Linked DNA regions of Homo sapiens: region 2 is linked to region 1. The links come from fine-mapping of genetic effects on gene expression. Tissue or cell type: neutrophils. Region 1 holds a variant in brackets; the other region holds the start of a gene. All regions are shown on one strand. Distances are from middle to middle.

Region 1 (7,680 bases):
ACTCCAGCTTGAACAACAGAGTGAGACTTCGTCTCCAAAACAAAAACAAAAAACCAAAAAAACCCAAATTGCCCTGTCTAGACTCAGTGTTCTCTGTGCACATCAGGGAATATCAGTTGCCCTGTTACACTGGTTTGTCTTGCCTTTTTAAATCAAGTAAACAACACAATGTGGACAGCACTCTCTTCCTTTTAGCAACCAGTTGTAGAATAAGGAGAGCTGGGTTCAATCTCCTTATTCACCATCAATCTGAATGACTTTGAACACATCCTCTCCCATCAGTTTCCCCATCCAACAACGCAAAAATTGGTCTATATTAGAGAGTTCTCAATTTAGGATTCATGGGTAGGTTCAGCAGGGGGGTCCATCAACTCTGAAAAAATAATGTATGGAAATTTTGTGTTTTTTAATGGAAATTCTTATTGAGATTATTTATTTGTTTATTTATTTATTTATTTTTGAGACAGAGTCTCGCTCTTGTTGCCCAGGCTGGAATGCATTGGTGTGATCTTGGCTCACTGCAAACTCCGGGTTGCAAACTCACGATGCAAACTCACGGGTTGAAGCGATTCTCCCACCTCAGCCTCCCAAGTAGCCTGGATTACAGGCACCCACCACCACACCCTGCTAATTTTTTAATTTTTAGTAGAGACAGGGTTTCACCATGTTGGCCAGGCTGGTCTTGAACTCCTGACCTCAGGTGATCCACCTGCCTTGGCCTCCCAAAGTGCTGGGATTATAGGCATGAGCCACCGGGCCTGGCCAAGATTATTTTTATTTATTTATTTATTTAAGACAGAGTTTTGCTCTTGTCACCCAGGGTGGAGTGCAGTTGCACAATCTTGGCTCACTGCAACCTCTGCCTCCTGGGTTCAAGCAATTCCTCCACCTCAGCCTCCTGAGTAGCTGGGATTACAGGTGCATACCACCATGCCTGGCTAATTTTTGTATTTTTAGTAGAGACAGGGTTTCACCATCTTGTCCAGGCTTGTCTCGAACTCCTGACCTCAGGTGATCTGCCCACCTCGGCCTCCCAAAGTACTGATATTACAGGCGTGAGCCACCACACCTGGCCTTATTGAGATAATTTTAGATTCACATGCATCTATAAGAAATAATACAGAGAGATCCCAGTTTCTCAGTGGTAACATCTTGCAGTATTATAGTACCATATCACAACTTGGAAATTGATATTGATTCAATTCACCTATCTTATTCAGATTTCCCCAGTTTTACATGCACATAATTGTGTGTGTGTTAGTATGGGTATTTAGTGCTATGCAATTGGGAATTTTCTTTTGCATGTGCTTTTTTTTTTTCTGGGGAAAGTTTCTTAGCTTTCATCAGATTCTCTCAAGCATCAGAGATCCAAAAAGGGGTTTGAGTCCCAGCTCTGGGAAATCTAGAAGACCATTCCTGAACCTCCATAGCTCTCTATTTCAGCAATCAACATTTAATTAGCAATTACCCCACAGCAGGCATAGGAATGCATATGAAGGAGAGGTGGTAGAGAGGGGTGCTGAGAAAGGAGGGCAAGCCCGAAGTTGCATACTACACTGTCTACCGAGCTTATGCTCAGGGGAGACACACAGTCCAACAGGCAAACAAATTATTTATTAAACATGCACAGAAGAGGGATGGCCCTGTTGCTTGGGGAAGCTGGGAAGTATTTCCACAGAAGCTGATGGTTTAGTTACATCTTGGAGGATAATCCAGAATTTTTCAGCTGAGGAGAGAAGAATTAATTGTTAAAATCATTCCCTCCAATCAGATCTATTCTAGATGTTTTGAAGAAAACATAGGAAACCATGCCTACATTTGTTTATTGTACAATGTTAAGGTGTCAGATTCAACTCCCATGTGCTGGTGCTGAGGCCAAGAGATTTTTTCCCCCTGAGTCTGTTTTCCACTATCTTGTCCAAATTGGATACCAGAGCCTGTCTGCTTAGCTTGAGAAAGGCATTTTATCTCTGGTGCCTTGATGACATTAGAGCTTATATTTAAAGCATGAGTGATGAGAAGAGACCAAAGCTGAGACCTTGGCTCTGTCCCATCCATAGAGCTCTCTCCTCCTCTGCATCGAAGGCTCTAGAAGCCAGTCCTGCATTGTCTGGTGGGAGCCCGAGCTGGTCAGAGCCATGAGTAAAACATCTCTGCCCTCCAGTTGACTCTCCAGTCACTGGGATCTCCTATTCTCTCAAGAGCTCATCAGAAATCCTCAGGGGGGCAAGAAATAAACATTTAAAAAAAGAAAAGAAAACCTTGTGGAGGGGCCAGGCGCAGTGGCTCATGCCTGTAACCTCAGCACTTTGGGAGGCCAAGGTGAGCAGATCGCTCAAGCTCAGGAGTTTGAGACAAGCCTGAGCAACATGGCAAAACCCCGTCTCTACTAAAAATCCAAAATTTAGGCAGGCGTGGTGGTGGGCAACTGTTGTCCCAGCTACTTGGGAGGTTGAGGTGTGAGGATTGCTTGAGTCCAGCAGGTGGAGGTTGCAGTGAGCAGAGATGGCGCCACTGCACTCCAGCCTGGGCAACAGAGCAAGACTCTGTCTCAAAAAAAAAGGAAAGAAAAAAAAAGAAACCCTCAGGGGCTTGGGCACTGGGGCTCCTCCATGTCTGTCCTCTCTATATTCGCTGGTTAGCTGCCTTGTGTCGGCTCTGGCTCAGACACCCCAAGGGGGCCTCTTTCTCTGTGTGAATTTCAGGTTCCTCATCAGGCCATTCAGTTCCCAGTACTGTTCTAGGAGAAATCATCTGAGTGTAGCCATTTCTGGGTTTGGGAGACCAAGACTCTACCATTGGGTACCCTTTGAAGAACCCTCTAGAAGCCCGATTCTAGAGGGTACCATTTCTGCACCATTTCTTATCATCCGTGTCCTCATGCAAGCTGTTTATCCCCTTAAATCTTAGTATCTTCATCTGTAACATGGGGATCATAATAGTACTATCCTCATAGGATTATTTTAAGCTTTAAATTAATTTCTGTAAAATTCTTAGCATATAAGTACTCTATCTACATTAGTTATTACTAACATCTATTTTTATAATATGATTATTTTTGGTTATTAAAAAAACCTTCACGGCTGGACGTGGTGGCTCATGCCTGTAATCCCAGCACTTTGGGAGGCCTAGGTTGGCGGATCACTTGAGGTCAGGAGTTCGAGACCAGCCTGGCCAACATGGTGAAACCCCGTCTCTACTAAAAAAAATATGAAAACAACAACAACAAAAAACCTTCAACAAGAAAAAAAAATTAATCTTCACTATAGCAAATTTGTGAACTACTGCAAGTTTAAGGAAGAAACAATCATAACATCCAGAGATAAGTGCTATTATCATTTTGATGTACAGTATTCCCAGCTTAATTTTTTCTTG[C/CT]TTTTTTTTTTTTTCTCTTTTTTTTTTGAGATGGAGTCTTGCTCTGTCGCCCAGGCTGGAGTGCAGTGGCGCTATCTCAGCTCGCTGCAGCCTCTGCCTCTGGGTTTCAAGTGATTCTCCTGCCTCAGGCTCCCAAGTAGCTGAGATTACAGGCACAGGCCACCATGCCTGGCTAATTTTTTTATTTTTGGTAGAAATGGGGCTTCATCATGTTGGCCAGGCTGGTGTCAAACTCCTGACCTCTAGTGATCCACCCCCCTCAGCCTCCCAAAGTGCTGGGATTACAGGTGTGAGCTACCGCTCCTGGCTGTCTTTTTGTTTTTGTTTTTTGTTTGTTTGTTTGTTTTGAGACATCGTCTTGCTCTGTCACCCAGGCTGGAGTGCAATGGCATGTTCACAGCTCACTGTAGCCTTGACCTCCTGGGCTCAAGTGATCTTCCCACCTCTGCCTCCTGAGTAGCTGGGACCACAGGCGCTTGCCGCTGCACCTGGCTAATTTTTGTATTTTTTGTAGAGATGAGGTCTCACTATGTTATCCAGGCTGGTCTCAAACTCCTGGGCTCAAGTGATCCTCCACCTCAGCCTCCCAAAATGCTAGGATTACAGATGTGAGCCACTGTGCCCAGCCCTTCCTTCCCAGCTTTTTTGGTGCATATATATACTTAGGGAAAATTAAAAACTGGGTTCATATTGTGTACTGTGTTATTCAACTGACATATTATGAGCATTTTCTCATATACTTAGATACTATTAGAAAATAATATTTTTAGAGAGTACCTAGTTTTCTAGCACATTGATATAACCCAATTTATATAACTAATCTATTAGTTTGGTATTAGATTATTTAGATTATTTCCTATATTTATATTTATAAATACTGTGGTAAATGTTCTTGTTCATAAATTTTTGTATGCATCTCTGCTTATTTCCTTAAGATAAATGCTTAGAAGTGAATTGACTGACTACACAAAATGCTATACCCTGTTTTTGTTTTTTTAATGTCAGGTATACAGAATTAGATTAACCAGAATGCTTGGTTCATGGTTCACTCTCATAACTGGCATATGGATGGCCTGGTTTTGTTAATTTAGGTGGTAAATTCATTAATAACGTAATCAGTACCTGTGAATTTATAACCCCAAACAAAAGCTAGGACCTTGACAAAACTAATATCTAACCATAGTTCCTCCTGCCCCCACTGCCCCATCTCCTTGCTCCCCACCCCAGACAATCATCCTGAATCCTGTGCTCATTTCCTTGCTTTCCTTTTTATATAGTTTTATTATACCTGTATATATTCCTTTTTTTTTTGAGACAAAGTCTCACTTTATTGTCCAGGCTGGAGTGCAATGGCATGATCTCGGCTCACTGCAACCTCTGCCTCCTGGGTTCCTGCCTCAGCCTTCCCAGTAGCCGGGATTATAGCTGTGTCCCACCACACCTGGCTAACTTGTATTTTTATTTTTATTTATTTATTTTTTTGAGACGGAGTCTCGCTCTGTCACCCAGGCTGGAGTGCAGTGGCATGATCTCAGCTCACTGCAAACTCCACCTCCCAGTTCAAGCGATTCTCCCGCCCCAGCCTCCTGAGTAGCTGGGACTACAGGCGCGCACCAACACATCTGGCTAATTTTTGTATTTTCAGTAGAGACGGGATTTCACCATATTGGCCAGGCTGGTCTTGAACTCCTGACCTCGTCATCCGCCCACCTCGGCCACCCAAAGTGCTGGGATTACAGGCATGAGCCACTGCTCCTGACAACTTTTGTATTTTTAGTAGAGACAGGGTTTCACCGTATTGCCTAGGCTGGTCTCGAACTCCTGACCTCAAGTGATCCACCCCGCCTCGGCCTCCCAAAGTGCTGAGATTACAGGCGTGAGCCACCACGCCTGGCCAATATCTGTACATATTCCTAAAGAATAGTTTTTAAATTGTTCTGAGTTTCATAAAAAAGGATATTATGTTGTATGTAATCTTTCAGGATTTATTTTATTTTTCACTTGATATTTTGCTAAAATCCGTCTGTATCATTGCATTTCACTGTAGTTCATTCATTTTGACTGATGTAAAATAATCCAATACATAAATATACCGCAGTTTATAATCTACTCTCTTACTGATGGGCAACTGCATTGTTTCTAGGATTTAGTTCTTGCGCACGCTGCTATTATGAACATTATTGTCAATGTCTCCTGTTGTACCCGTGCAAGCATTTCTCTAGAAAATCAATTGACGCTTCCCCCAGCCATGGATGAGAGAGCCTCTGGATCCATATCCTCTGGTATTGATGTTTCCATGGTTTGGGATCTATGTTGTCAAGTTGCTTTCCAGGTGGTTAGATCAGTTTGCCTCTCCTCCAGCAATGCAGGAGAATGCCCATTGCCCCAAACTCCTTCCAACACTGGGAATCTTTAAAAGATTTTTGACCATTTCATAGGAGAAAGATAACATCTCCCTGCTGTTTAACTTTGTGGTAAGGTACTGACTGTTTCAGAAGCTGAGCGAGAAGGGATTTGGTTCAGAGAATCGTTCCCAGTCTGATAATTTCAGTGATATTTCTGGAACTGATTACCCAGTGGCTCAGATGCTTTCCCATGTCCTGAAAGAGGTGACACTGTTGGAAGGAGGGAGTGAGGGGGGCCAGGATGGGAAACAAGCCCAATCACCACAGTGCAAGCTTGTCTTCTGGTCCCAGCCCCTGCCAATGTCAGATCACTTTTTCTCCTAATGAAATAGGCATTATCTCCCCCTACTCCCCACCCGAGAAAAGCCAGTATAATTCTACCCTTTGTTATTTGAATTGATAAATTTAAACCTCCTTCCCTCTCTGCAGTAAAAGAACTTTCTATTTTGGGCTCGGTGACATAGCCAACACCAAGCAGAGAGCAGCAGGCTGCAGCATGAGTTAATAGTTTTTCTTCAAGGGAGAGCGAATCCATAAGCAAACAGAAGGCCCTTCCAAACTGTGTCGTCTGCATAGCAACATGCAGCCCATTCGCCTGTCTTTATGCTGACGAATATATTTCTGAAAGGCTGAAAATTGAATACTACCTAATCTTCAGAGGAAGCTGGTGCATTAATTCTGAATTAATCAGGTTTCTTAATTCCAATCAATTTCCCTCCTCCCCACCCTGTGTACCTAACACTGGAATAGGTACTGTCAGGGAAGGGAATTCTGTTTTCAAGTGGATTTCTAGTCACCAAAGATTTAAGGAGTGCCCAAAACATTTTTCCTAAGAATATGACTTTCTCTGCTAGTCTGTTTCCATGCATGAAATCCCCCATATTGGGGTAGAATCCTGGGTCTTACAAGCCCCCAGGCATGCATAGAGGCATGTTCAGTTTTTCTTATGGGAAGTTTTCAATACTCACAAAAGTAGAGATAATAATATAATAAACACCCATTACCTATTGCTTGGCCTCAACGATTAACAATATATGGCAGTCTTGTTTTATCTATACCCCACCCCTCCCTCACCATCATTTTAAAGCAAATTTTAAAGCAAATCATGGTTATCTTCATATTTAAATACTATAAATTCTATAACAAATAAGGACTTTTTTCAATAACCACTATGTCACATATAAAACAATTAAAAATAATTCCTAATATCAACTGGTATCCAGCCAGAAATCAATTTGCCCTGACTTTCCTAAATGTCATTCTGTAATAGTTTATTCTAATCAGAAGCAAAACAATGTCATTTGTATTTGTTATATCTCTTATGTCTTTTTTAGTTTATAACATACATATGTGTGTGTGTATATATATGTGGGCATGTATATATGTGTATGTGTATTATTTTTCTTGTTGTTTTGTTTTTGTTTTTTGAGACAGGATCTCTCCCTGTTGCCCAAGCTAAAGTATAGTGGCACAATTATAGCTCACTGTAGCCTCAAATTCCTGGGCTCAAGCGATCCTCCCACCTCGGCTTCTCTAGTAGCTGGGACTACAGGCACATACTCCCATGCCCAGGTATTTTTTATTTTATTTTTTTCTGGAGACAGGATCTTACTGTGTTGTCCAGGCTGGCCTTGAACTCTTGATTTCAAGTGATCCTCCCACCTTGGCCTCCCAAAGTTCTAGAGATTACAGGCCTGAACCACTGTGCCCAGCCTTAATTTATAACAATTCTTCCTTTTTTTTTTATAGCCCTACTTTTTGGTGTTGTTGAAGATAATGGGTCTTTTAGTTATTATTGCTGTGTAACAAGCCACCCCAAACTTAGTGGCATAAAATAACAACCCATTTATTGTGTTTACAGAGTCTATGGGTCAGGAATTCAGAAAGGACCCAGTTGGGG
Region 2 (5,000 bases), 62 kb before region 1:
ATTGACCACAAAGTTCTAAGAACCTACAATACATAACCCTGTAAAGCACTGTTGTAAGCAGTTATTCACAAGTTAGTCTCCGAGTATTTCTATTAAAATTTTTTCAAAGTATAACTACTAGGAACAGAAGCTTTTAAGGCCTGCCCTACTGAACTCACTATTGGTATAAATTTAATAAAACATACATATTTGTATTTGCTTTCTGCCTGCCTTTCGTCTCCCACTGAATACTGGACTCCATCTGAACAGTTAACTGCCACAATTAACTACATGCGAACCTGAGGAAGGTCAGTCCAAAACAAACAACGCTACTAAATAAGATAGAAATTTTCCCCACAGTGAGTCCTACCTGTGAAGATGAGTTCAGATCCAAAGAGTACATCAGAATATGCTCATTTATGTCTGAGGCAATGCAAGACCATATACAAGAGAATAAAATGATTTAAAGATAAGCAGATGTGAGTACAATTCCCTAAATCTACTTAAAAGCTTCATTTCAGAGCCCTTTTTATCTTTCAGTACTGACTGTCCAGGTGACCAACTTTGAGATCTCTTGGCAAGATCTCCATAATAATAACCTATTACTTGCTCTGAAAACGCATTTATTAATTCAGATTAATTATGAGTCGTTAGGAAAAAGATATAATCTTACATAAAAAGTTAAGCATTTAATTTCAAAGGACTTGAGTTCTGGCAAAAAAAAAAAAAAAGGCATTTAAAATTAAAAGTCCAACAATTTCTTACCATCTTCAAATTCTTTTTTTAAAAAAGAAAACATACAAACAAGGAAAACAACAACAACAAAAAGAATAGCAATACCTGGTACAGATTAATTCAAGGCCTCTTAAAACTCACATACAACTTTTAAAAGGCCCATGCTTCTCAAGTATTCATAATCCGGTGATGTCACTATTAACTTATGGCACCTCTGAAGTTTTCTAGGTGTGTTGTATTACAAATCGCATATATTTTCCCAAAAGTGTATCATTTGGCATTTAAAACATGCATCACACCCATTTTATGTTCAAAGACTTATGACCCATTACATCGGTTAAAATATTCATTCAGCTTCTCTGAGACAATTGTCGCCAACCCCAAAGCAAACAGGTTGTTAGGCAAAGGAAGCAAAAAAGTAAAGCATGTTTTAAAACCAGCCACTGAAATATCCTACTCTCACTCATCCATAGTTGGAGAGAATCAGATTTCACTTTGCGATTCACAAACATGTCTGCTTCTCCATGTTGCTTAGCGCTTGCCAATAATGCAGTTGTCCCTGCTTAATGGAGAAGGATGCAGAGTAGAGGACCCTTCCTGTGACAAGACCACAACAAAAGGTATCTCCAAAAGAAAATATTTTAACCTGAGCCCAATTTTTAATTATAAAACATTTAAACATGTAATTTTTATATTAGATAGTACTGAAATGAACAGTGCAGAATCACAAATCTAACAATGCAGTTGATTAAAATTACTCTAAAAGCAAGACGACCGTTTCATATTTCTTTCAAATAACTCAAGATAAGTGCTTAGTCATAGTCAAGTTTGTGGATTGGGTTACTCTTAAGGGAGTTGAGACCTTACTAAATAGCAGCTGGTCAATCGGTTAATCTGTAATTCGATGCACTTGGTAATACTAAACTCAAAGATAAGTTTTAGTGTTACAGTAGAATAAAGTGCAAAATTTTTAAGTAATAATGGATGAAATATTTATTTGAAATGCTTTCAAAACAATTCCATTCTAAAGAAAGAGGCCTAAAGGCTCCTGCACTTGTAAATAATTCTCCATGGCCAGCATAAAGCGGGTTCTATCACATCATATAGAAAAAAAAACCCCTGCGCTTTAAGTGACCCGAAATTCTGACACTGCTTTTTAGACTGCACAGTGGAGGAGACGGTATTGTTCTATGAAACGGATACATTCTACTGTCACGCTCTAAAGGAAAAATGCATGTCCCTAAAACCCAAACGTGAAGTTTCCATTAAAAGTGAATCAAAGCAGGTAGACGTCCTATTTCTTTAAAAGCCAGATACCTAGAGTTAAGTTATACACAGTTAAGGCTCCTACAAGTCACACCACTCTGACGATGGTATCTGCTCAACGACTCCAAGTCATGGCAAAACAACGCTAAGAAATATTCAGATGGAGCAGGCGGCTATGTGCAGAAAGCCGGCGCCCGCACACGGTTAGCCAGGACCGACCGGTAGCTAGTGACGCCAGACACGGTGGAGAAAGGATGGGAGCCAAGAACCGGGCGGCCTCAGACCACCACCGCAGCTCTCCCTCCCGACCACAACAAAAGCCAGACACCGACACACGCCCACGCTCACGACAGCCAAGGGACCCCCATTCACAACCCCGCCGCCACCCCCGCCCTGGTCCCCGGGACAGCAGGCTTAAGACCAAGAGAGGCCCCCGGCCGCAGCCTGGGCCTTGCAGCCGAGCTCCGCGCCGGCTGACGCTCGGCCGGTGCAGAGAAGGCCCAGCCCGGGGTTCGGCTCACTTATGGAGCGCCGTGAGGACGCCCGGCCAGAGGAGGCCTCGCTGAGTCGGGGGCGGGGCAGGTGAACGGAACCTGGTAGGGTCTCCCGAAGAACAGGGTCGACAACGCGATCCACCGGGCCCGAAAGAAGGCCAGGCCCAGTCACCGCCCGCCGCGGGCAGGCCCAAACCGCAGCGGTGAGGCCAGCCGGCACGCAATCCGGTAGCCACGACCCTTTCCAGTTCAGTGGGCGGCTACTCACGGTGTTCGGTGTTAAGGAGACGGCCGGCGGGAGGCTGACGAGAGCCGGGAGGCGTTAGCGAAGGAAGAGAAAAACCGAAGACGAAGCCACTACAGCGTCGCAGCGCGGCGCGGCGTCTGCTTTATAGGAGAGGGCGCAGGCGCCGAGGACCCCGGGGCGCGCGGCGTCACATCGCGGCTGGGCTGGCCGCCGAGATCGCCTGACGGCAGGCCGAGAACGGCTGGGCGGGCCCAGGCCGGGAGGCGGCAAGGAGCTGCCGGGGGCGGCTGGCCGGGGGATCGGGGGGCCGGAAGAGTTTTCGCCTCTCCCCAGCTCTGAAAGCGCCGCGCTGTCTCGTCAACTGGGTGCCGGACCCCGACTGGCCTAGAAAGGTCTTTCAGGCAGCGGTGCCCTAAGCCGAGTGAAAGACCCCAGTTAAAAAGCCTGGAAAAAACAAAACCGGGCGAGTGTGTGCGTCTCTGTGTGTGTTCCTGGGAACAACAGAACGGGGCGTGTGTGTGTGTGTTCACTCCTGGGGGGGGCTGCGTGTGTGTGTACGCGCGTGTGTTCATTCCTGAGGTGTATGTGCGCGCGCGGGTGTGTGTGTTCATTCCTGGGGTGGGGTGGGGTGGGGGTGGGGCGCTTGTGTGTGTGTGTTTTACTACTGAACTGATACAGCTTGTCCAGCTTCCATTCTCCACGGTAACCCTCCGAGGTGAAATAGTGTTAGCCTTTTCGCCTCTGCAGTGAGGGAACAGGTTCGGAACGGTTAAGTGGCAGAGCTAGGATTTGAACCTTACTCCACAATTAGGTGCTGTTAGCCCTTATTTCCTACTATTGACTTCTAAAGAGGCTTCCATGCCAAACATAGCCATCGTTATAGGGAAACCCCAAGTCTAGAGAGATGGCTCCATCTAGCAGTAGGTACCTACTCCTTCACTAAACATGCTTTGAGCCCGACGTGCGAGGCGTGGTGCTGGGGATTCCGCCGTGAACCAGGCAGCCAGGGCCCGGCCTGGACGTAACTCTTCTCTAGGGTGCTCCCAGGAAGGCTTTGATGAGGTCGATGGAATGAAGCCAGCTGTAAAGGAAAGGGAGTAGTCTGAAAGCCCCACCCTGTTCTGCTCGGGAACATTACTCTCCCCATCCTAGGAGACTGGGCGCCGGGCTCGCCTAGCCAACAGGCACGTGATGATATCCCTGACACCAGGAAGACAAAAGATACTTCCACACAGGGCCCCCTGAAGAAACCAGAGATGTACAGTGCCTCTGGGATGGGACTGGGCAGGAAGGCCAAGCAGCTCCTTGAGTTACCAGGTCTTTGTCTACAAGCCTATCCAGTGTCTGCCAGGTGCCACAGCTGATGACAGAAGATGAAACGCCTGCAGCTCTCAGACATTTTCTTTGCAGCACAGCCCTGCCCTCAGCAGCTCTAGCTTCAGGCCTCCTAGGCAGGGCCCACTGGAGCCCCTTTGCTCCCCGCCTATGGCATAGAAGGTGGTACCTTATTAACTCTCTTTAAGCATTCTAAGCAGGACTGTGCAGTGTCAGGTCACACAGCCCGGGGACCCAGCACAGGGTCTGGCATAAAAGTAGGGATATATTTTTCCAAATATGTCTGAGAACCCCCTTTATTAGAATCACCAAGAAATGTCTGCTTTTAAAACAGATTTTGGGGCCGGGCGTGGAGGCTCACGCCTGTAATCTCAGCACTTTGGGAGGCCGAGGTGGGCAGATCACTTGAACTCAGGAGTTTGAGACCAGCCTGGGCAACATGGTGAAACCCCGTCTCTACAAAAAAACAAAAATTAGGTGGGTGTGGTGGTGTGAGCGTGTAGTCCCAGCTACTCTGGAGGTTAAGGTGGGAGGATCACCTGAGCCCAGGAGGCAGAGGTTGCGGAGAGCCAAGATGGTGTCACTGCACTCCAGCCTGGGTGATAGAGTGAGACCCAGTCTCAAAAAAATAAATAAAACATATTTCATTTGCTTGTATATGGTGCTATATGTATAGATTATCTCAGGAAAGATACACAAGAAATTGGTCACCTCAGAGGAAGGGAACTAGGTCACTGAGGGATGGGTTAGAATAATTTTTCACCTTATACCCCTTTGTATCTTTTGGGTATCAATTCACATGAATGTATTACATATTCAAATTTTTTAACTTTAAAAATAAATTGGCTCAAGAAAAATGCAGATTCCTGGGTCCACTCTCAATCTAATAACTCCCTGGGGGCAGGTTTTTCTGCCCTTTAAACCAGTTCTCCAGGTGATCCTCA

Which allele goes with the higher level. Positions count from the first base shown, and alleles are read on the strand shown. Sizes are in standard deviations (SD) of each study's normalised expression.
As copies of CT replace C in region 1, the expression in neutrophils of the gene that starts at base 2,838 in region 2 goes up (large effect, 0.75 SD a copy in BLUEPRINT).

What was found. PIP is the estimated chance that this variant, and not a neighbour inherited with it, causes the effect.
Region 2: it holds the start of SKP1, and the variant in region 1 is fine-mapped to the expression of SKP1 in neutrophils (BLUEPRINT, PIP 0.95).

Annotation. Positions count from the first base shown.
Region 1 is chr5:134,234,522-134,242,201 of GRCh38, forward strand. No RefSeq gene overlaps it. Among named protein-coding and RNA genes, the nearest start is that of PPP2CA-DT, 12 kb to the left of the region's middle. RefSeq lists an enhancer at 6,188-6,237. The variant C/CT (reference allele first, on the strand shown) is at 3,376.
Region 2 is chr5:134,174,113-134,179,112 of GRCh38, forward strand. SKP1 (S-phase kinase associated protein 1) reads right to left here and starts at 2,838. Exons shown (of 6, transcript NM_170679.3): 1 at 2,743-2,838. RefSeq lists enhancers at 2,219-2,498, 2,589-2,838, 3,742-4,256 and a silencer at 2,989-3,068.